4 linked regions of the Homo sapiens genome follow. The protein of the gene in region 4 purifies or fractionates together with the protein of the main gene of each other region. This does not show direct contact. Each region holds a gene or a part of one and is shown on either strand. Other genes may lie near its edges. The genes, in order: GCFC2, CHERP, CUL2 and DHX15.

Region 1 (7,026 bases), on a different chromosome or scaffold from region 4:
GTGCTTTATCTTGGCGCTTAGATGAATTTTGTTTGGTTGGTTTTGGTTTTGGTTTTACATATATCCTAGGAACATAGCAGGTGATATAGAGTGGTAAAGAGCACACGTCCACTGTTAGTAGGTATTTTTATGCACTTGTTTTCTCATCTATAAAATAAGGATAAAATTAGTGCCTACCTCACAGGATATTAGGGAGATGAAGAGAATGCTCAGAACACAACAGGGCCTAGCACAGAGGAAGCACAATGCTGAGGAACGAGAAACTGCACCTGTAAATTCTGCAGTCACTTTAAATTATAAAACGAGTATTTGATGTATGATCATAACTTTGCTAAGAAGCCATCAGTTATAATGATGCATGAACTGTAGCAATCCAGTGAGTAGTGACAGGATGGAGGAGCTTTATGGAGGGGGAAGAAAGGAACCTCAAAGCTTTCTGATTCATTTTGAATCATGAGATGTCTACATGTAAAAATTCTGCCTTGGTAAACTTTGTTTATAATGTTTTAGATAATGCATTCACATGGTTCAGATGTATGAATGTGATATATTAGTTATTTGTTTATAAATATATATTTTATAAACATATTTATAAATATATAAATATATATTTTATAAACATATTTATAAATATATAAATATATATTTTATAAACATATTTATAAATATATAAATATATATTTTATAAACATATTTATAAATATATAAATATATATTTTATAAACATATTTATAAATATATAAATATATATTTTATAAATAAATATATATTTTATTTATAAAATAAAATAAACAATCTCTATTTATATTCCATTAAGGCTTAGTTTGGTTGGTTTAAAAGAAAGTCTGATCTTAAACTCTGGTTCTGAAAGACTAATAGTTCTTTGCATTTTCTCTTCTCTTTCGTTTGTTTCTAATTAGTGCTGTAGAAAACAAAACATCACCTCATTCAAAGTTCCAAGAAAGACAGTTCTGGTCAGGCCTAAAGGTGAGCAAAAACTGCAAAAATGAAAAGGCAATTTTTGTAAAAATCCTGTTTACTATAGAACAAAGAACAACAAACTTCTTCTATAAGAATTAGATAGTATTTTAGGCTTTGTGGTCACATGGTCTCTGTCGAATTACTCAACTCTGCCGCTGTAGCACAAAAACAGTCATAGTACATAAACAAATGAACATGGCTGTTTGAATAAAACTTATGAACACTGAAATTTGAATGTCATATAATTTCCTCATGGTACAAAATATTTTGTTTAAAGACAGTTTTAAAACGTCCTTGAAAAGTGTTAAAACCATTCTTAGCTCACGGACCCTATAAAAACAGGCAACAGGATGGATTTAACCCACAAGCTATATAGTTGGCTAACCCCTGGCCTTAAAATTATTGCTAAGTCAGTGGCAGTAGGGATGAGAAGGAGAAGAAGGTTCAAACAATGTTTGGGAGGAAGCATTGAAAGGAGTCGATAACTGATCAAGGGAAGATAAGATCTATTTTGTACATAATGAAGATATATGTGGGACAAATAGAGATACAGAGGTCTAGGAGGTGGTTGGATACATAAGTCTGAATTTCAGGAGACAGATCTGAGCTAGAGATTTGGGAGTCCACTACCTGTAGGTAATATTTGGAGCCATGGTCATGAATGGCAAGCTGCGTAAGGAGACTGGATGAAGCATGAGAAGTAGGCCAAGGACAGAACCTCGGGAAATACTAACAGAAGAGGAGAACATGGAGGCTTCAGGGAATCTGTAGAATCAATTATGAGCCTTAGGATGATCACAAGAGAATGGCCTCAAGGAAGCTAAATGAAAGATTTTCAAGAATGAAGAAAAGAGTGTTAAATGCCACCAAAGAGTATTAAGAGAAAGACTGAAACACTGTTTATTGGATTTGACAATTAGAAGGATATAGGTGACCTCACCAAGAGTAGTTTTAATAGTGTGAATTAATATTTGTCATGTGGTTGAATCAGGGAAAAGGCTTTCTGGGAAGAGGGAACAACATCAACAATGAGATAAAATGTGAAAAAGCATTACATTTTAGTAAAACAGCATGTAGTTCAGCACTCAGAGTAATGAATATAGTACTGCAAAAAAAGAAACACCTTAAAATTCACAGAAAGATCTGAATTTAGTAGAGGGAAAGGACAACCAATATTTTATTAGAATTTATTATGGTTACTTAATCCAAGTTATCTTCAAACTCAAAGGTGATTATAAATCTTTATGTATCAGAGGAATGAAGCTCTCAGCGTTGATTGCCTTCTCAAGGTCACATGTTGGTAATGGCGGCCCTAGTTTTGACAGTAGTTCTTTATGAATCACGTGGTCCTGTGGTCTTATACTTGATGGCCCCCGGCTTTGAGAGAAAATGGATTGGGAAGGAAGATTATTGATCTGGAAAGGCTCTAGTGAAGTTATTTGAGATAGATTTGGGGATGGTTATCCTAGAAAATGAAAATAAGATGAGCAAATACATGGAGTTTGGAAAGAATCAAGTATTTATTCAGAGATATTGTATTCTAAAATTGACAGTTCCAACAGGGCTAATTGTAGTGAGAATTTTAGTTTGACCAACTCTTCATGTTTGTTAGAGACTATTACAGTTTCTCTTTGGAGAAAAGGTACATATTTACTTGATATTTTATTTTAGCTCTTCCGCAATATTCTTCTTTGGAATGGACTCCTTACAGATGACACCTTGCAAGAACTAGGACTAGGGAAGCTGCTAAATCGTTACCTTATTATAGCACTTCTCAATGCCACACCTGGGCCAGATGTGGTTAAAAAGTGCAACCAGGTAAGTTGTGAAGGAAGACTGATTCTAATTTTATCATTTCTAAAAAATTTAGCTATTAAAATCTATTATTTAGCAAAATAATTAAATGTGTGGTACTCATATATAGACAAATGGGCCAGGCACAGTGGCTCATGCCTGTAATCCCAGCACTTTGGGAGGCTGAGGCAGGCGGATTGCGTGAGGTCAGGAGTTTGAGACCAGCCTCACCAACATGGTGAAACTCCGTCTCTACTAAAGATACAAAAATTAGCCAGGTGCGGTGGCTAACACCTGTAATCCCAGCTACTTGGGTGGCTGAGGCAGAAGAATCGCCTGAACCCAGGAGGCAGACGTTGCAGTGAGCCGCCATTGCACTCCAGCCTGGGTGACAAGAGCAAAACTCCATCTCAAAAAAAAAAATTGACAAATGAATTTAACAAAGCTAAAATGCAGAGCCGCTCTTCTGTATTTAAGAAAGAGTATACTGGTTTGAAATATCCCCAGTAGGGAAAGGAAAAATTACTTAATAAATGATGCTAGATGGCTGGCTGTTTACAAAAAGAATGTTAAGTCCTCACCTCTCACTATACACCAAAAAAATTTCAGGTAAAATTTTAAAAAATGTAAAAATGAAACTATAAAATATACTAAGATGGTAAATGACTATATTTGAGAGTGAGGGAGTTCCTTCTAAACTTAAAGGCAAAAGAAGAAATTATGAGAAAAAGTAATAAATTTGAAAAAATATAAAACTTTAGTGGATCAAAAAGGTATTGGGATTAATTGATTATTATTAAAACTGGGGAATGTGTTCATTGGGCTCATTATACTATTCTTTCTACTGCTGTTTGTGTTTGAAATTTTGTATAATAGAAAGTTAGAAAAGTTAAGAATCTAGGAAATAAAAAGTTGTTAACATGTAACAAGTGTTAATATTCACATTAAATAAAAAAGCTCTTTACAATTTAGTAAATAATTCAAATGTTCTGACTAAAAATGGCCAAAACACGTGCAACAGTAAAGTCACCTAAAAGGATATGTAAAACTAACCTTAAAATATGTGAAAATAATTAATAGTACTAATAATCAGAGAAATGGAAATTATTTATAGGAAGGATATTTACTTGACCAGTTGTGTTGGCAAACATTTTTTGGCGTTGTTATTTTACTTACGATTTCCAGTGTTATAAACACAGGAAAACAACAGTTCCATCATTGCAGGGGCACCATTCACTGTATGCAGTGCAGTGGTTCTGGAAAACAGTCTCCTGCACTGGGGGAAGGAGGGATACAGCTCTTTTGGAGAGTATTTTGGCATGATGGATACAAAACTTTTAAAGCTTATATTCTTTGACTTAGCCAAAGTAAGTTAAGTCAAAAATTAGAGATGCACATATAGATTTTAAGTACAAAGAATATTGTTATAGCATTATTTATAATAGAAAATAGTTGGAAACACCTACATATCCCTAAAAACATGATGGTCTTCTCATAAGATAAAAATGTGAAAGGAAAATAAATCTCAGAACCTGTCTCAGATACTTTTGGGTTCACAAAAGTTATGTTTTTGAAGAATTTTTAAGAATATGGGAAAATAATTATTTTATAATTAAAAACACATACACACTAAACTGTTCCCAGATAGAATAGGGTCCATCTGCTTGTTCTTGCAGCCCAATAACAAGATGCAGACAGACTGGGAAAGAAAGGAGCTTATTTTTGCAACCAGTTACAGGGAAAAGGTTGTAGCAACTCACCAGACCAACTGAAAGTTACAATTTGGTTTTTTGTTTTGTTTTGTTTTGTTTTGTTTTGTTTTCTTTAGCACTTATATGCATTCTAAGCTCCATGCTACATGGGAGAGTGCATCTACAAGTGAGAGTGTTTCATTCAGTCTGTACAATCTAACTACCGTCTGGGGTCTGTAAAGCTTTCTCTAAAGTCTTGGAAAGTTTTTTAATCTTAAGTGGGCCCTGGTACAAAGAGTATGTGTAAGAATGCTTTCATTATTTGATCAGACTTTAGGATCTGGGAAAACTCAGGCAGGGTCTTAATGGGTTTGTTTTCGCATTCCAGTTCTTGTACTCAGGCACCAGTTTCTCTAGCTCTTTAATGTTTAACTTACACATTCATCAAAATTATAGAAAAGGGTTAGTGGAAATTGATTCATCTGGTTGCTAATGGAAACCTAGTCTGCCATAAAACTATATATCAATTAGTAGCCAACCATGATTGTTCTGGCTATAGTTTTTATATCATAGTTTTAAGCATTATATATTAAAAATTTAAATCATCATCCATGTAATGTTGTTCAGGTTTAGTTTAGTCCCCTTTGACCATAGGGTCTATTATGAAGTGGAGAAGAGGAAATATATTTACACAGCATTCTTTCCACAGCATATGGTTAGAAAACCAGGCCAAGAAAATCGACTTTTAGTGCTGGGATCATTAACGCAAAAGCTACATGGTTAAATGAGAATTTTACTGAGACTTGTAATACAAAACAAGGGGAAAACAAGTGCAAATGACATTCAATAGTAAAGGGTGGTTTTAAAACTTTTAAAAAGAGTTTACATAACAAAACTTGTAGGATCTTCTGCCTTAGGCAGTCAGTGTGTCAGTATTTTTCCTGAATAGTTGAAACAGGTGATTAAGGAGTAGAATTCTTTTTCCTCAACCATGTTTTAAATGCTGACCAATCTTAGAAAGAGCGCATTCCAGAACGTTTATTTAATATACTGTATAATATATAGGGTGCATTTTAATTTTTTCCCCAACTCTCTGCTTTCTATATTGATCTTGATGTTACCAAATGTAGCATAATCTGTATGATTATCTAGGAATTTCCTTGAATAGTGTGATATTGTGACAGGCCAGGTTTCCATTAGCAAACAGAACGATCAGTTTCCAAGAACCCGTTACTATAACGTTAATGAAAGTGTAAGCTAAACATTAAAAAACTGGAGAAACTGGTGCCTGAGTACAAAACTGGAATGCAAAAACCAACCCATTAAGAACCTGCCTGGGTTTTCTCAGCCCCTGAAATCTGATGGAATAATAAAAGCATTCTTACACATACACCTCATTCTGTCTTAAGATTAAGAAACTTTCCAAGACTCTCGAGAAAGCTTTCCAGACCCTAGTCCCTAGCTAAAGATGAGATAGAGATTGAATGCAACACTCCCACTTGCAGTTACAATCCCACACGTAGCACGGAGCTTTAAATATATACAAGCACTAGAAAAAAGCTTAGAACTTTGAGTTGGTCTGGTGAGTTACTCTGACCTCCCTTCTTTCCCAATTGTCTGCATCTCGTTTTCGGACCTCAAGAGCAGGCAGCCATACTTTGTTCTCTCCGGGAACAATATCAAGTTTTTTTCCTTTCTCCCCTTTTCCCTCCCTTCTTTACCCTTGTTTCTGCTATGAGGAAGTTTTTTTTTTTTTTACTTTTTAAATTTTTTCTAACATTTTTCTGTTTTTACCAAAACTTTTCTCAAAATCTTGTATTACTCTTAGGATGACAATGATAAAATGTAATTTCCATTTCCAAAAGAAAAATTGAATGCACCTACATTGATTCATTCTGCTGCTTTACAATTAAGGCAATGTATTACACTGATAGAAGATTAAAAACATAATTAATTTATCTTTCATTCTTTGTATCTTAGAATCACCCATTTGGTTCCTTAACTCCATATAGATCATATGCTAGGCCATCCAATTTCTTTATAAAATAATAGTGAATGTATGTATTTTAGAGTTGTATTGACCAAATATTTTGTGTCTAGACATTTTTGGTTTTTAGTTGTAAATTATGTTTTGTACAGATTTAATGACTCACAAATACAAGAATATAGAAAGAATTACTAGTACTACCAGGGAGTGTTCATAGAGAGTAGTGTATTTTAAGTTCTTAGCATTAAAGAATGAATTCCAAAATATATGTAGCCTTGGACACAAAGGGAAATCTTTAGAAATTTTTATTTAACCATAAACTATAAAATGGGGAGAATGATACTCAGCTTACAGTATCACTATGAGATTATATTAGCAAGATTTCTTAGATAACTGTCATTGTAAACCAGCCATGTGTTTTGATTAACAGGTAGCAGCATGTCTACCAGAAAAATGGTTTGAAAATTCTGCCATGAGGACATCTATTCCACAGCTAGAAAACTTCATTCAGTTTTTATTGCAGTCTGCACATAAATTATCTAGAAGTGAATTCAGGTAATGCATATTTTATTT
Region 2 (7,829 bases), on a different chromosome or scaffold from region 4:
TTACAGGCGTGAGCCACCGCGCCCGGCCTAGCAACGGTTTTAAACTTGGTGTGCTGGGGCTAAGGAAGGATCGCTCTAGAAACACATAAGCACATACAATATTTTGCTTACGATTTCAGGCAGCTGATCTCTCTCCACCCCACCCCCGCATCTCAAACCTAAATAGGCATCAGAAAAACCCCTGGATTGAGTGAAAAAACCCAAACTTTTCCCCTGGCAGTTAACACTCCAGGTCAAACTCTTCCCTCATACAAGCACATTCTTTTATTAAATAGATTCTCTACTATGTCACCCAGGCTGGAGTGCAGTGGCTATTTACAGGCGTGAGGCCACTACTGATCGGCACAGGAGTTTCGACCTGCTCCATTTCTGACCTGGGCCAGTTCACCACCCCTTAGACAGTCGAGTGGTCCCCAGCTCCCAGGGGGTCACCATACTGACACTGAACTTACTGCACACACTCAATCGACACAGCGCACTACAGCCCTGAACTCCCGGGCTCAAGCAACCCTCCAGCCTCAGCCTCTTGAGTAGCTGGGGGTACGGTGTGTGCCACTGTGCCTGGCAATACACACATAAACTCTCTCTCTGTTTCTTGTTCAAGAAACTGCCCCTTTGCAATGTTCTACTCTCTCAGCCTTTCAAGTTTTTGTTGTTGTTGTTGTTAGATGGAGTTTCGCTGTCTCCCAGGCTAGAGTGCAGTGGCACGATCTTGGCTCACTGCAACCTCCACCTCCCAGGTTCAAGCGATTCTCCTGCCTCAGCCTCCCGGGTAGCTGGGACTACAGGTGCCCACCACCATGCCTGGCTAATTTTTTTTGTATTTTTAGTAGAGATGGGGTTTCACCATGTTGGCCAGGCTGGTCTCGAACTCCTGACCTCAAGTGATCCGCCTGACTCAGCCTCCTAAAGTGCTGGGATTACAGGCACAAGCCACTGGGCCTGGCCTCCTTTCAAGCTGCTTTTTTTTTTTAGATGGAGTCTCATTCTGTCACCCAGGCTGGAGCGCAATGGTGTGGTCTCGGCTCAATGCAACCTCCAGCTCCCAGGTTCAAGCGATTCTTCTGCCTCAGCCTCTCCAGTAGCTGGGACTACAGGTGTGTGCCACCACACCTGACTAAGTTTTGTAATTTTAGTAGAGATAGGGTTTCACTATGTTAGCCAGGCTGTTCTCAGACTCCTAACCTCAAGTGATCTGCCCGCTTCAGCCTCCCAAAGTGCTGGGATTACAGGCGTCAGCCACTACGCCTGGCCTCCTTTCAAGCCTTTTCTTTTTCTTTCTTTCTTTTTTTTTTTTGAGATGGAGTCTTACTCTGTCACTCAGACTGCAGTGCAATGGCGTGGTCTTGGCTTACCGCAACCTCCACCTCCCGGGTTCAAGCGATTCTCCCGCCTCAGCCTCCCAAGTAGCTGGGACTACAGGCGCGGGCCACCACACCCGGCTAATTTTTGTATTTTTCGTAGAAACAGGGTTTCACTATGTTGGCCAGGCTGGTCTCAGACTCCTAACCTCAAGTGATCTGCCCGCCTTGGACTCCCAAAGTGCTGTGATTACAGTATGAGCCACTGCAACAGGCCTCCTTTCAAGCTGTTTAATCGAACACCAACTGTGTGTTATGTATTAAGGGACAATGACCTTGTACCTTAATACAAGACGAGCGTGTAGTCCCCTGAACTACACGCTCGCCGAAGCCAAACAGACCTTGTTTGGGTCATTGTACCTTAATACATAACACACAATTGGCGTTCGATCAAACAGCGGACAACCACCTCTCAATGTCCATCTACCTGGCAAACTCCTAGTTATTCATTTAAACAATCTAGAGACGGGGTTGGGTACTGAACGTGACAGATGTGATACCTGCCCTGAGCAGCCGCACCACCTGGTGACTATCCATTATTCAAAGGCCAGCTCTGCTTCCTAACTTTAAACTTCTTTAGAGCAGGACTGGAATCCTGTTGCCTAAATGAACGAACATTGATAAACACTTGCCAATAACTAAAACTCAGAGGGATAATTCTTTTTGATTTCTGCTGCAGGCATCTGAAATGCACAAAACCTTGCTGGACCCACAGGGAGACGGCAAAGGGGGCTGGACAGTGCCTGTCCCATGGACTCCCATCCGGCCTCTATCACTTCCTCCCTAGAAAACACTAAAACAATCACGCTACTCCTGCTAATCTCCGTCATCAGTCTGCAAAACAACAGCAAAATCCCTGATCCAGAGCCCAGGGGGGAGGATCGAAAACCTCGTTGTTCTCCATTACAGTGGCACCCAGCAGCCGCTCTGTGCAGGGCCGTGGGAACAGCGGAACAGGGATCGTGTGGACCGAGCTGCTCCACTTCAAAGAATAAACGACCCGAAAGAAAGAGGTTTGTGGCAGAGCCCGGACTGGAATCCGAGAAAGGAAGCGCTCGATGGGACGGCCTGAGTGCCGGAGGGGACTCACGCTGCTGCTGCTCCAGCGCCAGCTTGCACTTGTAGTAACTGTAGAATTCGCCTCCGAAAAGAAACGAGAATTTGGGGTTGTCCTTCTGCTTCTCCATAGTCATCTTCTCAAACTCGGGCCCATTGCGAGCCACGAACTGGGCGAGCTTGTCGATGACATTTCGAAGCTCCTGGTCTGGAGGACGGAGAAAAGGCCACGCGGGGCGTCAGCGAGGACCGCCCAAAGCCGGGGGACTCGGCGCCCCAGCCCCCGTCCGCCTTGCCGGGGACCCCAAGGGGGTGGGCCCCGAAGAGGCCGCCCTTGTACGGGTCCCGATAGGGGCCACACGCTCGCCGGGAATGCGGGGACCCACGGGAGAGGCCGCAGGCGAAGCCGCGAGGCCGAGCCCCGCCCCCTCCCAGACCCGGGGACTCCGGGAGGCGGGGCCGGCCAATAGGAGGTTCCGGGGAGAGAGAAACGGTCTCTCGGCCGGTTTGGGTCTCACCATCGGGGGGCAGCGGCATCTCCATGGCTCCGGCCGCGGGGAACGTCCTCCGGCGCCACACGATCGACCACCAGCGCCGTCTGCGGAAGCCGGCCGGAAGTGGCGCGAGGGAGCCGTTTACGGCGGGCTTCTAGGGCCGCTTCCGCCCGCCACTTACGGCCGTCGCTGGGAAACTCCGGAAGTGAGAGCGGGAGGCAGGCGGGAAGAAGCCGCGCGATGCCTGGCGCGCGGGAGGGGCTAGCGACGCGCACGCGCAGAAGTTTCCTGACACTTTCGCAGAGTGGGTCCCCGTCGCGCGGCGCCGCGGAAAGGCTGGAACGGCGCGGGTGGGTGTTAGTCGAGACCGGGGGGCGCGGGGCGTGCCCCTTGGTCGGCGTCGCAGCCCGATGGGCTGGCTGGTTGCTACCTCCGGGCGACCAGGGGCCTGGGGACTTCGTGCCTGGGCCAGGGTCTCTTTCCTTTCGCGGGCACAGTGAGGAGACTGCGAGGTGAGGTGCGTCCGGGTGGATCCCGGGCTGCGGCGACTGTCACATTCTCCCCGGCCAGACCGGAGGTGGAGCAGAACTGGGGGCGACGAGCTTGACTGGGATTGCAGCTGGACGTATTTAGGTTCAAAACATCCTCCTCCTGGCTTTCTTCCGCTCCACTCTTTGGTCAGGAAGACTGGGGCGGGGTACCCCCCAACCCATGCCCTCAAATTGCTGGCCTAGAGGGCACAGCGCCTTTCTAAAAGCTGCAGTTGGGTTGCCTCTAAAATAATGAAGCTAACCCTTGCTAATTGTGGGGAAAAGATAGCCAGAAGCAGCAAATTTCTGCTGTGGACGTCCGATATAAACTGATCCTCTTGAGATGGTTAATGCTTAGTTGGCTATACCTGCCCCCCGCCCCCGCCGCTTTTTTTTCCTTTATCCGTTTTTTTTTTTCTTTTTTCTTGAGACAAGGTCTTGCTCTGTGGCCCACGCTGGAGTGCAGTGTCATGATCATAGCTCACTAGCCCTGAACTCCTGTGCTCAAGTAATCCTCCCGCCTCGGCCTCCCAAAGTGCTAGGATTATAGGCATGAGCTACTTTACCCAGCCTGTTTTTTTCTGTGCAAATAAATGCACATGTATTTTAGATTAGTTTCATTTTTATTGTTAACAGCATTTTTCCACCAGATGCTTATGGATTGACAACTCTACATCAAGTGTTGCTGTAGGCTAGGAATCAACAAAACTTTTTGTATAAAAGGGACAGAAAGCAAATATTTTAGACTCTGCAGGTCAGGAGGCAAGATCAAGGATTTTTTTTTTTCTAAATGTCCTCTAGTTCATATTTTCTCATGAAGATCGAGGATCTTAATTGTTTGGTTTTTTTTTTTTTTTGAGACACAGTCTTGCTCTCTCTCGCCCAAGCTGGAGTGCAGTGGTGTGATCTCGGTTCACTGCAACCTCTGCCTCCCGTGCTCAAGCAATTCTCCTGCCTCAGCCTCCAGGGGAGCTGGGACTACAGGTGCGCACCACCACGCCCGGCTAATTTTTGCATTTTTAGTAGAGATGGGGTTTCACCAGGTTGGCCATGCTGGTCTTGAACTCCTGACCTCACATGATCTGCCTGCCTTGGCCTCCCAGACTGCTGGGATTACAGGTGTGAGCCACCCTACCCAGCCTTATTTAGGTATTTCTATAACCAGAAAGAAAAGTTCATAAAATTTTTGTTGGTGAAAATCAAAATATGATAACTGAGTAGTTTCTTAAATACAAGTTGCTACAGTTTGAATGTTTGTTCCTAATCCCCAGTGAAACAGTATTAAGAGGTGGAGCCTTTAAGAGGTGATTGGGTTATGAGGTCGTGCCATTCATGTGTTAATGGATAAATAGGTTATCATGGGAGTGGGACTGGTTTGGAGCTTGCAGTGAGCTGAGATTGCACCACTGCACTCCAGCCTGGGCGACAGAGTGAGACTCCATCTCAAAAAAAAAAAATAAATAAAATAAATAAAATAAAATAAAAAGAGGAAGAAAGGCCAGGCTCAGTGGCTCATGCCTGTAATTCCAGCACCTTGGGAGGCCAAGGCACGCAGATCACCTGAGGTCAGGAGTTCGAGACCAGCCTGGCCAACATGGAGAAATCCCATCTCTACTAAAAATACAAAAATTAGCCGGGCATGGTGGCGGATGCCTGTAATCCCATCTACTTGGGAGGCTGAGGCACGAGAATCACTTGGACCCAGAAGGCAAAGGTTGAGGTGGAGGTTACAGTGAGCCAAAGTCGTGCCACTGCACTCCAGCCTGGGCAACAGAGCAGGACTCCGTTTCAAAAAAAAAAGGAAGAGAGACCTGAGCTTGCACACAGCCTGCTAGCCATGTGATGCCCTGTGCTACCTCAAGACTCTGCAGAGTCCCCACCAGCAAGAAGGCCCTTGATTTTGGATATCTCAGCCTCCAGAACTGTAAGAAATAAATTTCTCTTCTTTAAAAATTGCCCAGTCTCAGGTGTTCTTTTATAGCGATGCAAAATGGACTAAGACCCAAGTCTATTCATAAGAGTGGAATTCTTTTGGGGGATAACATTTCACTTAATTGGGGCTCCCAGTTGTATTTCCTGTCGTCAATTGATGGTACATGTTCACCTTTGAAAAACCTTCCTGGCTCACAAAAACAGGCGGCCAGTTGGATGTGGTTTATAGATACGGTCATGCACAACTCAGATCTCAGCTCTGCTCTCAGGGGACTCAGTCTATGGCGGGGAAGAGTCCCAAAATCAGTAAACAAATATATCATCTCAAAGGTGTTATTAAGAAGAGGATGCTGAGACTATGATACAAGGGAGGGTGAGGCCCAGGCTGATAGGGTTGTCAGGAAAGGCTCTCGAGGTGAGGTCTGCACTATGATCTGAACAAGGGGCCAGCTCTAAACACCCTAAACAGGCAGAGAGAACAGTGTGGGATCATACTGTTTATTTAAAAAATATTTTTTATTTTTTATTTTTTTTGAGATGGAGTTTCACTCTTGTTGCCCAGGCTGGAGTGCAATGGCGTGATCGCGGCTCACCACAGCCTCCGCCTCCCGGGTTCAAGCAATTCTCCTGCTTCAGCCTCTCGAGTAGCTGGGATTACAGGCATGCGACACCACACCCGGCTAGTTTTTTATTTTTAGTAGAGATGGGGTTTCTGCCTGTTGGTCAGACTGGCCTCAAACTCCCAACCTCAGGTGATCCACCCGCCTCAGCTTCCCAAAGTGCTGGGATTACAGGCATGAGCCACCGTGCCTGGCCCTAAATTTTTTATATATTTTTTTGAGACGGAGTCCTGTCTGTTGCCCAGCCTAGAGTGCTGTGGTTCAATCTCGGCTCACTGCACCTTCCGCCTCCCACACTCAAGTGATTCTCCTGCCTCAGCCTCCTAAGTAGATGGGATTACAGGCGCCTGCCATCACACCCAGCTAATCTTTGTATTTTTAGTAAAAACGGGGTTTCACCATGTTGGCCAGGCTGGTCTTGAACTCCTGACCTCAACTGATTTGCCTGCCCTGGCTTCCTAAAGTGCAGGGATTACAGGCATGAGCCACCGTGCCCAGCCCATACTATTTGAAGAACAGTCAGTAATCCAGAGTGTGGGCACTTTTCATGCCAGGTAAAATCTACATGAAGAAGTTTTTTTTGTTTTTTTTGTTTTTTTTTTTTTTGAGACAGAGTCTTGCTCTGTCACCCAGGCTGGAGTGCAGTGGTGTGATCTCTGCTCACTGCAACTTCTGCCTCTGGGGTTCAAGCAATTCTGCCTCAGCCTCCCGAGTAGCTGGGACTACAGGTGCACACCACACCCAGCTAATTTTTTTTTTTTTCTGAGGAGTCTCACTCTGTTGCCCAGACCGGAGTCCAGTGGTGCAGTCTCTGCTCACTGCAAGCTCCACCTCCCGGGTTCACACCATTCTCCTGCCTCAGCCTCCCGAGTAGCTGGGACTACAGGCACCCGCCACCGCGCCCGGCTAATTTTTTGTATTTTTAGTAGAGACGGGGTTTCACCGTGTTAGCCAGGATGGTCTCAATCTCCTGACCTCGTGATCCGCCCACCTCGGCCTCCCAAAGTGCTGGGATTACAGGCGTGAGCCACTGCGCCCGGCCTACCCCCAGCTAATTTTTGTATTTTTAGTAGAGATGGTTTCACCATGTTGGCCAGGCTGGTCTAAAACTCCTGACCTCAGGTGATCCACCTGCCTCGGCCTCCCAAAGTGCTGGGATTACAGGTGTGAGCCACCGTGCCCGGCTACATCAAGGAGTTTTAACTTGGGATCTCCAATGGATAGATTTCAGAGAACCATGAACAAAATTGGTAGCAAAATAAATGCCTTTTTGAGGGTTGAAGATACACAGCGTTTACAGGATTCTTAATAGGCTCCTCAATCAGAACAGGTTAATGAATCTGTATTGTCATTTTTTTTTTTTTTTAGACAGAGTCTCACTCTGTTGCCTAGGCTGGAGTGCAGTAGCATGATCTCGGCTCACTGCAACCTCCGCCTCCCAAGTTCAAGAGATTCTCCTGCCTCAGCCTCCTGAGTAGCTGGGATTATAGGCATGTGCCATGACACCCAGCTAATTTTTGTATTTTTAGTAGAGACAGGGTTTCACCATGCTGGCCAGGCTGGTCTTGAACTCCTGACCTCGTGATCCACCCGCCTCGGCCTCCTAAAGTGTTGGCATGACAGACGTGAGCTGCTGCGCCCGGGCGATGTTGTGATTTTTGAGGCTGCATAGGATGCCATGGTGTGGACTCACCACAATTTACTGAAGTGAGACTCTAGTCTCCTGGCTTGGTTCCATTTTTAGGCCACTGTTAAAAGTGTCTTAAGTGTATATAGGGTTGGGCGTGGAGGTTCACGCCTGTAATCCCAGGACTTTTGGAGGCCAAGGCGGGCAGA
Region 3 (7,026 bases), on a different chromosome or scaffold from region 4:
TTAAACATTTTTATGAAAACATTCAGATTCTTTTGCTATCAACTTTCAGCAAGAGAATGGGTCTGCCTGTTTGTCTCTCCTTTCATACCTGTTTGCCTCTAGGAAGTTACTGGAAAGAAAAATGTTGTTTATGAGACATAATAGCATTAATTTTGGCAGAAATTACAGCTTAGACAGGGCCTCAAAAGCATTTTCCATGTGGCTGTGGACCTCCCAGGAGGCTTGAACCTTACCTGGGAGAGCCCAGCTATCGACAGCACTTGAGGCTGTTGCTGATATCACTTTGCCCTTTGTCTGTCCATTTCTCCTTCTCCCACCTCCTTTTATTGTTTGGGTTTTTTGTTCTTTTCTTTTTCTGCCTAAGTCTTAGCATTTCTATTAATATTTAAAGACTTTTTTTTTTGTTTTTTTTTTTTTTTTGAGACAGAGTCTCGCTCTGTCACCCGTGCTGGAGTGCAGTGGTGTGATCTTGGCTTGCTGCAACCTCCGCCTCCCAGGTTCAAGTGATTTTCCTGCCTCAGCCTCCCAAGTGGCTAGGATTACAAGCATGAGCCACCATGCCTGGCTAATTTTTGTACTTTTAGTAAAGATGGGGTTTTACTATGTTGACCAGGCTGGTCTCGAGCTCCTGACCTAAAGTGATCTGTCTGCCTCGGCCTCCCACAGTGCTGGGATTACAGGCGTGAGCCGCTGCGCCTGGCCTTAAAGACTGTTTTAACCTACTGGTGAAGTTATGATAGTTTTACTGATTTATACCATATACTCAAAACTAATAGACTTCCATCCTCACCTCCCCAAGAAACAAAATGACTACCTTGTTAACAGCAGTGGCTTTACAACAATTTAATAAAATTATTGGTTCACTCTTTCCGAAGAAAATGTCTGAAATAAAGTAAATTTGAAATGTTTCTTTGAATGGTCAATTCACTGTCAGTTTTTGTTTTAATTGTAGGTGAAGTTAAAATGAACTATTTGGGCAAACCATATGTAGCCATGGTTACAACATACCAAATGGCAGTTCTTCTTGCCTTTAACAACAGTGAAACTGTCAGTTATAAAGAGCTTCAGGACAGCACTCAGATGAATGAAAAGGAACTGACAAAAACAATCAAATCATTACTTGATGTGAAAATGATTAACCATGATTCAGAAAAGGTATGTAGTAATATTCCAAAGAATTTAAGCATCATCAGCATTAAAGCTTTTTCATGAGATGTTTGCAGTTTTAAAATAAGGCTGTAATTGTTATTGTGCTCTGGAAAGCACTTGTATTCACTACGTTACTGTACGCTCCATAGAGCTGCGAGCGTTAAGGCATCACAGAGCATGCTGTGTGAGTTGGTGCCATGTGCCGTTTATAGTTTGATTTTATTTGTCCTATACTGTTACAGCTTATTGAATAATTGTAAAAGAATTGCCATCTGGAAGATTTTGATTAATTGAGATTTTGAAACTAGCCTTTAAAGACTTTCCAGGTTTTTGGTTTTATAAATGTGCTTAATTTCATGGTTCTATAACAGGAAATGACAGCCTGTTGATGTCTGTTTGTACACATATTTAATATGTGTAACTCCATTCCAAGTGTTCTTAATGTCAGCACTCAATTAACTGTCATCTGTTTTTAACCACCATATATTTTTAATATCTGTCACAAGAATAACAAGCCATTAGTATATTACTTTTTTTCTCTGTAACTTTTTTTCTAGTTACAAGATTTTGCTGTTTTGTTGTCATAGTATATCCTAGATGTTTAAATAGTTAAAAATGCAACAGAGGTGGGATTATATCTCCTTCAAATTATTGTGCTTATAAGAAAAAATTCCTATAAATAATGTTTTGTTTTTATTTTTGTAAAGTTAATAGCCTACAGTTTATTTCTCTCATTAATTCATTTTGCTGACATCCCTAGGATTATGATGACATTTTATAGTCTATAACTGAACAACTGTAAAAGGCATATTCTGAAATTCAAATCAATGTTTTCATAATTTTGAGAAATGATTTATCTGGCATCAGAATCTTAGCAAAATATGGATTTTTTTTTTTTTTTTTTGAGACGGAGTTCCACTCTTGTTGCCCAGGGTGGAGTGCAATGGCGTGATCTTGGCTCACTGCAACCTCCACCTCCTGGGTTCAAATGATTCTCCTGTCTCAGCCTCCTGAGTAGCTGGGACTACAGGCACGTGCCACCATGCCCAGCTAATTTTGTATTTTTAGTAGAGATAGGGTTTCACAATGTTGGCCAGGCTGGTCAGGCTGGTCTCGAACTCCTGACCTCAGGTGATCCACCTGTCTTTCCCAAAGTTCTGGGATTACAGGCGTGAGCCACTGTGCCTGGCCAAAATAGGGATTTCTTAAGGTTAATTAATTATGGTTTCTAATTTTAGGCTAGTAAATTCTTAAAGGTTTTATATTTTTTTCTAAAACATGCTATTTTTGCTGCCCAGAAATTGACAAAGTAAACATAGATTCCTTGTTTGCACTTTAAATTTTATTTTATGTTTATTTATTTTTGAGATGAGATCTTGCTGTGCCACCCAGGTTGGAGTGCAGTGGTGCCATCTCAGCTCACTGCAATCCCCACCTCCTGGGCTCAAGTGATAATCCTGCCTCAGCCTTCCAAGTAGCTGGGACCACAGGTGTAAGCCACTATGCCAGGCTAATTTTTTAATTTTTAGTAGAGACCGGGTTTTGCTTTGTTGGCCAGGCTGGTCTCAAACTCCTGAGCTCAAGTAATCTGCCCACCTCAGCCTCCCAAAGTGGTGGGATTACAGACGTGAGCCACCATGCCTGGCCTTTAAATTTAATTATGAATCTGTCCATTCCTTAGCAGAATGTCTTAGATTATTATTGAGAATTATTTCATCTTCCAAGTGCCTTTTGATTCTGCTGCCAGAGAAATTCCACTCTATGATATCAGTGGCTTTCTTAAGCCTGATACAGAAGTTGTTATTCTAAAAATTGCCTAAACAGTTTTCCCCTGAGCAAAGGCCACTTGCTTCTTGAAGAGTGAATAAAACATGGATTGAAATAAATGTTTTCACCATCACCCCAGGTCACAGCAAATTGATGCTGTGTGCTACTGGAGGCACAGCTTTCTCTTGTCATCAGGCCATTTACAGTGGGTATTTTGTTACTGCGGCATTTGTAAAAAAAAATGTGGTTGCTTTTTCAAAATGGGGTGATGGAAAAGTTACGCACTTTGGTGTTTCATAAAAATTAAAATGTCAAACTCTAGGCAATGAGCTTGACTCTTATTTTATCAAAAAGTAGTGTATATAGAATAGTAGGACCAGAAAATAGCTTATTCCCAAACATAAACTGCTTAAGATTCTGGCAGATGTAAAAGTAGAAAATAATTGGGTTTTTTCCTGTTTGTTTGAACAAAAGAATTATTTTTCTCTTAAATTTGGTAATCTATAATATAAAAGTTATGAGAGTGGAGGCTTTTTTGCTTGGTCATTAATTTAGCAGAATTGCTTGCAGCAAACTCTTATTTAAAGATTTTGGTTTTTATAAATATAAATGTTTTATTTTTAAATGTAGGAAGATATTGATGCAGAATCTTCGTTTTCATTAAATATGAACTTTAGCAGTAAAAGAACAAAATTTAAAATTACTACATCAATGCAGAAAGACACACCACAAGTAAGTGCTTTTAATGTCAAGTTTTTTTTGAGGGGGAAACATTTAAGCATTGGACTTTACAAGTGTTTACATTGAGATTGTGCAAAACTTTGCACAGCAAAATTAATAATGGGATATGTCTTTTCTGGTTTGTTGTTGGCATTTATTAACCTTACAGTCAAACAGAAATCTCTACTTGTATTTTAGTTTTTTCTAAGGAAAAGGGTATGGTTTTGTTGTATTTGCTCTTAAACCATTAGAATGTGTAACTATGCATTCTCTCCGAAAATTCCCACATTGAGAAGTAATAAAATTTCATATTTTTCATTTGTAAAATAAGGGAAAGTTCTCCAGTTCATTTTTTTTTTTTTTTTTGAGACGGAGTCTTGCTCTCTCGCCCAGGCTGGAGTGCAGTGGTGTGATCTCGGCTCACTGCAAGCTCTGCCTCCCGGGTTCACGCCATTCTCCTGCCTCAGCCTCCTGAGTAGCTGGGACTACAGGCGCCCACCACTATGCCTGGCTAATTTTGTTTTTTGTACTTTTAGTATAGACGGGGTTTCACTGTGTTAGCCAGGGTGGTCTCGATCTCCTGACATCGTGATCCGCCCGCCTCAGCCTGCCAAAGTGCTGGGATTACAGGTGTGAACCACCGCGCCTGGCCTACAGCTCATTTCTTTCAAAGAAAATTTGTCAGTAGAAAATGCTTCTTAAACTTTCATATGCAAATGAGCCACCTGGGCATCTTGTTCAAATGCAGATTGTGATCTAGTGGGTGTGGAGTGAGGTACTGACAGGCCAGTGTGAGGAGGGGACTTCTGCTCTTCATTATTTTAACTCAGCAGTGATTGTTGCTTTGGTCTGGGATAGACTGTTTCTATCACTTATGCTTCCTGATTGCCTCCGGTGTGCAGTCCTTGGGCTGATGCAGGATGTGAAGATAATATAAGATGTTAGACCCTCTCCAGAAACTTAATTCCCGATGGGGGGAGACAAATATTAACTGCCATTTACTTTGAAACCTAAAATGGTCAAGATTCCATTTTCCTCCAGGCTAATAAATAATAATTTGCAATATATAGATTGTATTTTGTCTTTGAAACGCTGTGAGGAGATCCTCTTAATGTGGCATGGTCTGCTTCTATGCCTTGCTTCTGTGTTTCTTGAGCTCCGTGGAGATAGGCCCCCTCTCCTGGCTTCTCTGCTTGAGCCACATAAAATGCCACTTCACAGCTCTTCCCTTTGAAGCCTGATCCAGTATGCATTTGGAGCTAATTACTGCAGTTGACACAACTCCATCTAAAAGCGTCATGAAAGATTCTGTAATCACTGATAAGAAAATGATCTTGCAAATTATTGCTGTGTCCTCCTTTATTGCCTCTTTACCTTAACAGTACAGTTTACAATAATGTAAATTTTTTTCTAATCTTTCAACTTTAACCCTAGAAATTGTAGATGTTTTAGCAGTGGTTATGTGATATTGGCACAACATAACTATATAATTTGCTCAATATTGTGGTGCATACCTGTAATCCCAGCTGCTCAGGAGTCTGAGGCATGAGAATCACATGAACCCAGGAGATGGAGGTTGCGGTGAGCTGAGAGCGAGTCACTGAACTCCAGCCAGGACGACAGAGTGAAACCCTGTCTCAAAAAAAAAAAAAAAAAAGTATTTGCACTCACTGATAAAATGAATTGAAAACAAGTTCAGTGACTTAATGTCTTGTTGGGTCTTTTTTCTTTTCTTCTGTAAAACAGGAAATGGAGCAGACTAGAAGTGCAGTTGATGAGGACCGGAAAATGTATCTCCAAGCTGCTATAGTTCGTATCATGAAAGCACGAAAAGTGCTTCGGCACAATGCCCTTATTCAAGAGGTAAAAGGAGGGCAGTCCTCAGGGCTTCTTAGGGTAGAGGGCATTGTCATTGTACAGATTCAGTCTCTTTCTTCTTAAAGAGGATACAGAAATAACCTGATCCTCAGATAGCATAAAGAAATGTTTCATACTTAATCAGAATCGTACTCACTCACAATTTCAGTATTAAATTCAGATTTGCAGGCTGGGCACAGTGGCTCATGCCTGTAATCCTTTTTGTTGTTGTTGTTGAGACAGAGTCTTGCTCTGTCGCCCAGGCTGGAGTACAGTGGCGTGATCTTGGCTCACTGCAACCTCTGCCTCCCAGGTTCAAGTGAGTCTCCTGCCTCAGCCTCCCGAGTAGTTGGGAATACAGGCGTGCACCACCATACTTGGCTAATTTTTGTATTTTTCGTAGAGACAGGGTTTCACCATGTTGGCCAGGCTGGTCTCGAACTCCTGACCTCAGGTGATCCACCTGCCTCGGCCTCCAAAAGTGCTGGGGTTACAGGTGTGAGCCACCATGCCCAGTGGACACCTGTAATCTGAATGTCTTGTTAGGCCAAGACAGGAGGATCACTTGAGTCCAGGAGTTTCAGACCAGCCTGGGCAACACAGGGAGACCCCATCTCACCTAAAAAAAAAAAAAAAAAAAAATTAAAAAATTAAAAAATTAGCCAGTTGTGGCGGCACACTTGTAGTACCAACTACTTGGGAGGCTGAGGCGGGAGGATTGCTTGAGCCCAGGGATTGAGCCTGTGTGACACAGTGAGATGCTATCTCAAATGATAATAATAAATTCATATTTGCTTTGGCTTTATTTTAGAGGTCTAAAACTTGCTGATTCATTGAGTCTTCTGTCCAGTTATTGAAGGAAATTGACCCATCAGATATTCATTCATTCCATAACTATCTGAGCCTACCATGTGATAGACAGCTGGGCTGGTCCCTGGGATATAGCACAGAGCAGCTGAAGATATGGCAGGCTTTTTTGGAGTTCACAGTTTAATGGGGGAAGAAATACACTATTGAAATGATATGCAAATAAATGTAAAATTACATTAGCATGCACTGAAGGAAACGTATACAGTACTATGAGAATGTATTTAAATATCCTGGCCTAGGGGCTGCTGGGGAAAACTTTCTTGAGAAAGTGTTTGAACTAAGAGCTGAGAGTTGAGTTAAATAGAAGCTTGGGGTTGTGTGTGAGTACTTAGGTTAATTAGTTTATTGTTTCACTTAATTATGTATCATTATTAGATTTTGCTGTATCCATTTTCCACATTGTAGTTCCTATTTTCATACTTAATTTGGCCCATTTGTTGAAACCTCAGTACATTTGAGGCACTTTAAACTGATTGGTTAAAAGTCATTACTTAATAGCTGAAGAACTGGCAGTAGTTTGACTTCCACATCTCTTCCACAGGTGATTAGCCAGTCAAGAGCTAGGTTTAATCCCAGTATCAGCATGATTAAGAAGTGTATTGAAGTTCTGATAGACAAACAATACATAGAACGCAGCCAGGCGTCGGCAGATGAATACAGCTA
Region 4 (7,026 bases):
AAATGTTTATACTCAAAGGTTTAAAGAAGGCATTCCCTAAAATCTTCATCTCCATCTTTGGATAACAGTTTTTGGTGAACATTTTCTAAGATCTCTGCATATTGACTCAAAAATATGAACTATAAAATTTAATATCAGTGGGATCAACGCGTGTTATTTTGTACTTTGATTTTTTTTTCCACTCAGAAATGTCATTAACTGTAGGTACACATTACGCTTTTAAATTGGCTGCCATAGGCCGGGCGCAATGGCTCACGCCTGTAATCCCAGCACTTTGGGAGGCCGAGGCGGGTGGATCACGAGGTCAGGAGATCAAGACCATCCTGGCTAACACGGTGAAACCCTGTCTCTACTAAAAATACAAAAAATTAGCCGGGTGTGGTGGCGGGCACCTGTAGTCCCAGCTACTCTGGGAGGCTGAGGAAGAATGGTATGAACCCGGGAGGCGGAGCTTGCAGTGAGCCGAGATTGTGCCACTGCACTCCAGCCTGGGCAACAGAGCGAGCCTCCATCTCAAAAAAAAAAAAATAATAAAAAATAAATAGATTGACTGCCATAGTACTCCAGTTGTAAAGGTATGACATCACTTATTTAACCAATATCCTGTTCATTGATATTTAGGTAGTTTTCCACTTGTTGCTATTTTATAAATGAGAAGTTTGATGAACATCCTTATACATACGTATTTGCACACATCCTTGAGAGGTTCCTGGAAATAAGATTGACGGATAAAAAGCAGTGCTTATTGCCGGGTGTGATGGCTCACACCTGTAATCACAGCACTTTGGGAGGCCTAGGCGAATGGATCACCTGAGGTCAGGAGTTCAAGACCAGCCTGGCCAAGGTAATAAAACCTATTTTTGTCTCTGTTAAAAATACAAAAATACACTGGGCATGGTGGCGCACTGCTGTAATCCCAGCTACTTACTCCGGAGGCTGAGGCAGGAGAATTGCTTGAACCTGGGAGGCAGAGGTTGCAGTGAGTCGAGATTGCACCACTACACTCCAGCCTGGGTAACAGAGGTAGACTGTCTTTAAAAAAAAAAAAAAAAAGCAATGCTTATTTAAAATATCATGATTTTGATGACCAGTTAATGTCTTCCTTAGCAGTACTTCAGTGCCTGTTATTATTCCATGTAGAATTTTTTTATTTTTTAGAGACAGGGTCTTCCTCTGTTTCCCAGGCTGGAGTGCACTGGTGTGATCATGGCTCACTGCAGTCTCAAATTCCAGGGCTCAAGTGATCTTCCCGTCTCAGCCTCCCAGGTAGCTGGGACTACAGGCGTGCCACCCCACCTAGCTAAGTTTAAAATTTTTTTGTAGAGATGGGGTCTCACTGTATTGCTCAGGCTGGTCTCAAACTTTTGGCCTCTGGTGATCCTCCCACTTGGGCCTCCCAAAGCACTGGGATTACATGCGTGAGTCACTAGGTCTTGCCCTCCATGTAGAATTTTAACATGGTATTAGAACTTAAAAAGATCTTTAATAATAACCAATATTGGTGGGGCGCGGTGGCTCATGCCAGTAATCCCAGCACTTTGGGAGGCCGAGGCAGTCAGATCATGAGGTCAAGAGATTGAAACCATCCTGGCCAACATGGTGAAACCTCGTCTCTACTAAAAATACAAAAATTAACTGGGTGTGGCAGCATGTGCCTGTAGTCCCAGCTACTCTGGAGGCTGAGGCAGGAGAATCGCTTGAAACAGGGAGGCAGAGGTTGCAGTGAGCTGAGATTGCACCACTGCACTCCAGCCTGGTGACAGAGCAAGACTCCGTCTCAAAATAATAGTAATAATAACAACAACAACCGATATTGGGCATTTGCAATGTGCCAGACAACACTTAAAGCACATCACATATATTAACTCATTTAATCCTATCTATACTCTACAAAACATATTGATAGCCACATCTTATAGGTGAGGGAAGAAATAACTGTGATCCTATAGTTGGCTTAAGTCTTGAGCCAAGATTGAACTGAGACACAGTACAGAGCAGTATGTTCAACAACTGTGTCATGTCATACCTCCCTCCCTGCTCGTGGTGTGGCTGTGTCTGAAGCACTGACTTGATACCAGTTTTTAAAAACCCTTATACTTCAACTAGTAAACTTTTAAGAACAAAACTCCTTTATAATAAAAAGTATCTTTTAAAAAAGAAAACACGCATGTGCACAATAGTTGACAAATATTTATGAAGTGGAGGGTTTGATTTTCCCCTTTTACTCACCTTTCATTTGTACTCCCTCTCTCATCGAAGGAAGGTAGTTTGAGCCATAAGCAACATTTCCAGGTGTCTGAATTTGCCTCCTGCATCCTCCCTGTTTTCTTACTTTAATCTGAGACTAAAAGTATCTGAAAATGCTCTTCATTTTGCAGATCAGTAAATTGAGGCAGTGTCTTGCAATGGTGATTCCAGCATTCCTTTTATCTTAATACCACAGCTGTCGCCATTGCTTGATCAGCAGCTAACCTTTTATCTTTAGAATGTATTTTATACATCCTTTGTTTGGTTTGGTAATGAAGCATCTGATGAAGTGGGCCCCTGAAAAAATCTTTGTTAGTATAGGTATTACTTTAACAAACTAAGGCAATATATAATACATGATTTACTTTGTCACCTCTCTTCCCCCAAATTTTGTAACTCTTGACCATGTCTTAATTGCCTGGTACTATGCTAGAAGTATAGAAATCATTAAACTAGGCTGGGCATGGTAGCTCATCGGTAATCCCAGCACGTTGGGAGGCTGAAGCAAGAGATTGCTTGATCCCAGGAGTTGAAAACCATCCTGGGCAACATGGTGAGACCCTTATCTCTACAAAAATAAGAAATTAGCGAGGCGTGGTGGTGCATGCCTGTAGTCCCAGTTACTCGGGAGGCTGAGGTGAGAGGACCACTTGAACCCAGAAGTTTGATATTGCAGTGAGCCATGATCCAGTGAGCCACTGCACTCCAACCCGGGTAATGGAGCAAGATCCTATCTCAAAAAAAAGGAAGTTGTTTCAATTATATTTTTTGTCATCTCCTCCTTCCCCCATGGTTGAGTGAATACTAGAAACATGAATCCTTTTTGTTCAGACCAGATGTTCTTTAAGAGTTCTTTTCTAGCTGTATGATCCATGATCTTTAAGGTGTCAAGTATTTGAACCATTTGTGAGTACAGTGCTTCTTACTTTGCTGGGCACATTTCTGTGTACTCTTATTATAAACTACACCTCGTTGGCATTTTGGAGCAATGTAAACACTTAATTAACAGTCACCTTAGGCCAGAAGCAGGAGAAGCAAAGATAGTTGATGGCATATTTCAGAAGATAGGTCCAGACTCTCAAGTATTGAATTGTGAGACTTCATTTTATGTTTATTAAGTTATCCTTTGACTTTTCTTTCCCATTGATTTTCTTTCTGTTTATGCCAGGTGAAATGAGAGGCTTCATACAGTTCTGGCTTGTATGCTCTGTGATTTTTGTAGAAGGTGAACATTGGGATGGAAGAGGGGAAAATCACTTTTCATGTTTATATATGCATATATATGGCTTTTCCCCTTTTTGAGTAAATTTGTACATGTCACACAACTGCACTTGGAGCACAGGGAATTTGTACTTTTGTGTATTGTGGGTAAGGAACAATGACATGTTTCGGGGCTTGTGTCATAGCTCCGTCATGTCTCATTATTTCAAGTCTGGGTTTAAAGATCTTGAGGCAAATTTCTCTGCTGATGGACTTGGTCTGAAGTAAACTGGATTAGTAAAATGAACAAGCATAGATTATTTTATTTTATTCCCACCACCAGTCTCCCAGAGGCTGCTTTCAGCCACAACGCATATGAACAACCTGCAGCCATTCTGCTTGTGAAGTTCTTAGCATAGATACTTTTAAAATGACTTATTAAGGTCAATCTCTAGTAACTGGAAGTAGATACCAGCATTGACTACTTAAAATTGACCCAGGTTTAATAGAGTGGCTACCTGCATAATTTTAACATGTTAAACAACTTAATAGTGTTTAGCAAAGCTTATTTTTAATTTGGCTATGTTTCATTTTATGGTAGACCAAGGTACATAGATTTATAGAGTGCTTTCAGTGTTTTGCTGTTGCTGTTTAGGTTAAAATGCAAGAGTAAACAAGCAAGAAGGAATAAAAGTTTTAATTTCAGTTTTTTTAATAAAGCAATATACATTTACTGAACAAAATTGGGAAAGTGCTGGAAAGTATAACTAAGAAAACAAATTCTGCAGTCCTGTAATTCGTATTTGTATTAGTTGAGATATTGACAGGTATAACATTGTACTATGCTCTTTTCACTTTGCATTACAACCGAACATCGTCCTATGGCAAAGAAAGGAATATTAAAGTAATTTATTAGAAGTGGATTATAAAAGTATTGAGCAAAACCCACCACTGTTGACTGTAATGATGTGAGGTGGAGTTGTCTTTATCTCCAGTAGCAGTGTTTGTGCTAACTTCTGAATATACTTTTAGTGCACAAAATACCTCTTCACAAATTGAAGGAGAATTTGAGAAAGATTGAGATGCCATCTTCTTTTACTCAATTTGGACCTATCCTTTCTTCATCCTACCCTCAGTATCTGATTTCTGTTGTCTAAGTAGGAGGGGTTTTACTTGCAGCAGACTGAGTTCTTGTGTTACCTCACCTAATGTTAAAAGTTAAGGAAGGTGGGGCATCAGCAAGGAAGGGAAAGATGTTTGTGGTGGAGAATGGGAAACCCTTGATTGTAGGGTATTTTTTATTATTTCTGATAGTTACATAATCCATTGGACTTTTTATTCATTTGAACGTTGGACATTTACTCTCTTTGTGATTATAACGCTACCGTGAACATTCTGCATAAAATTCAGAATCTGAATTCTAAATTTTTGTTTTTAGGAAGGATCGAGATCGAGACCGGGATCGTGAAGATCGGTCTAAAGATCGAGACCGAGAACGTGATAGAGGAGATAGAGAGCGAGAGAGGGAGAAAGAAAAGGAGAAGGAGTTGCGAGCTTCAACAAATGCTATGCTTATCAGTGCTGGATTACCACCTTTGAAAGCTTCCCATTCAGCTCACTCAACCCACTCAGCACATTCAACGCATTCAACACATTCTGCTCATTCAACGCATGCCGGACATGCAGGTCACACGTCACTTCCACAGTGCATTAATCCGTTCACCAACTTACCCCATACTCCTCGATACTATGATATTCTAAAGAAACGTCTTCAGCTCCCTGTTTGGGAATACAAGGATAGGTTTACAGATATTCTGGTTAGACATCAGTCCTTTGTACTGGTTGGTGAGACTGGGTCTGGTAAAACAACACAGGTGAGTTATTGTATACCATGGTACATATTTCATTTATGTTTAAGTTTACCAAATGTTGCATATTTGATTCTGGTGGTCATTTCCCTTGTCTGTCCTATAGAACATCTTGAAGAATAGCTGATTTGATGTTTAATTGGCACTCTGAATTTCAGAGTGGAAATCCTATAGAGAATACCTCTCCCCTGAATCTAGGGGAAAATAGTGGTGCTCGCTTTTCAAATTTTGTTACCTTATGTATGGCAGAGGTATTTTGACTCCCGGACAGTACAGATTTAGGGACCCACAGTTTGTTTTCTGGTACTTGGGTGGAGAAATCACTGGGGTAGATTTTTGTCGTTTGTATTTAATATGGTATTTTGAACCATGCAAAAAATGAAATGCCAAAGTAATATAAAGTCTATACCGGTGACTTTTGTCCATCTAGTCGTCCTCCCTCCCATAGAACTAAACACTGTTACTAGTGTGTTATTTGTAATATAGCTAGGATATTTTTTAAACATGGATGGGCTATTATTAACTAGACCCCTGTTGATAGACATTTAGACTGTTTCCCATGGTTGTTTTGCATGGGTCAAGTGTTTCTGTAGGAAGCAGAAATTGCTGGGTCAGAAGATCATTTGTAATTGTGATACAGAAAGCTGGATAGCCTTCCAGAGGGAGCGTATCAATTTACCTTTCCATGAGCATGTAGGAGAACACGTGGGAAACTATTAAAACGTGAATTTTTACAAATCCAATAGGTGAAAAATTGCATTCTAATGTACTTTTTAATTTGCATTTTCTTGCTGTGGGTGAGAAGTAACTGTCTTTATACACTTAAGCCTGAACCATCAATTAAAAATTTCTGGTTTCAAAAGTAGCAGTCCCTGATCATTGTAGAAACTTTGAAAAATTCAGGAAAGTATTGAAGTGAATTACCTGTCTTACCATGCAGAGATTGAACATACCGCATACACAATTTATCTTTTTCTAAAGTTACATGTGCATGGAGACATTTTGAAGGTACTGTAGCAACCAAAATAGGAAGCTTTTATTATAGACTGAGCCTTAGTACCATTCTTCTTTTCTTTTCTTTTTTTTTTTTTTAATTTTTGTGTTGTTGTTGAGACAGTCTTTCACCCATGCTGGAGTGCAGTGGTATGAACACAGCGTCAACCTCCTGAGCTGAAGCGATCCTCCTGCCTCAGCCTCCCAAGTAGCTGGGATCACAGGCATATGCCACCAGTGCCTGGCTAATTTTTAAATAAAATTTTTGTAGAGTTGAGGTTTTGAACTCCTGAGCTAAAGCAATCCTCCTGCCTTAGCCTTGCCAATTTTTCTTTTTTAATGAAGGAAAACTTAGAATTGATGTTAGGGTATTCAAAAATCACCTTACGGAAATTTTAAGAATTTTCAAACTACAAGAAAGACTGTAACTCTGAACTTACTATTTAATTGATATTTGGGTAAAGCCAGACACTGTATACTTTACATGTATTAGCTCATTTACGTTTTTCTATAACCCTGCAGGAAGATATTCATCACCACTTTACAGATGAGCAAAATGAGGTTTAAGTTTATGAGAAACTTAGGTTTAGTGGATTGTCCTGGGTTACATGGATTATGGATTTTGGTGGGCTCAATATTTAAAACTTTGTACCTTTTGTCTTTATATCTAAAGTTTTATATTTCATACTGCTATTCTGTGGTCTGATTATGGGTAGCC

The links.
Region 1: the proteins of DHX15 (region 4) and GCFC2 purify together in Homo sapiens (co-immunoprecipitation; 3 studies listed by BioGRID and IntAct, with this or other methods). This does not show direct contact.
Region 2: the proteins of DHX15 (region 4) and CHERP purify together in Homo sapiens (co-immunoprecipitation; 3 studies listed by BioGRID and IntAct, with this or other methods). This does not show direct contact.
Region 3: the proteins of DHX15 (region 4) and CUL2 purify together in Homo sapiens (affinity purification with mass spectrometry; 2 studies listed by BioGRID and IntAct, with this or other methods). This does not show direct contact.

The regions. Positions count from the first base shown.
Region 1 is NC_000002.12:75,665,911-75,672,936, reverse strand, and holds part of GCFC2 (intron Large complex component GCFC2), read left to right. Parts: exon of another isoform or gene 1-621; intron 622-920; coding exon 921-987; intron 988-2,652; coding exon 2,653-2,799; intron 2,800-6,883; coding exon 6,884-7,008; intron 7,009-7,026.
Region 2 is NC_000019.10:16,539,419-16,547,247, forward strand, and holds the start of CHERP (calcium homeostasis endoplasmic reticulum protein), read right to left. Parts: upstream 3,020-7,829; 5' UTR 2,961-3,019; coding exon 2,936-2,960; intron 2,626-2,935; coding exon 2,452-2,625; intron 1-2,451. UniProt on the Homo sapiens protein: Involved in calcium homeostasis, growth and proliferation.
Region 3 is NC_000010.11:35,010,321-35,017,346, reverse strand, and holds part of CUL2 (cullin-2), read left to right. Parts: intron 1-952; coding exon 953-1,155; intron 1,156-3,546; coding exon 3,547-3,648; intron 3,649-5,382; coding exon 5,383-5,499; intron 5,500-6,904; coding exon 6,905-7,026.
Region 4 is NC_000004.12:24,574,538-24,581,563, reverse strand, and holds part of DHX15 (ATP-dependent RNA helicase DHX15), read left to right. Parts: intron 1-4,885; coding exon 4,886-5,321; intron 5,322-7,026.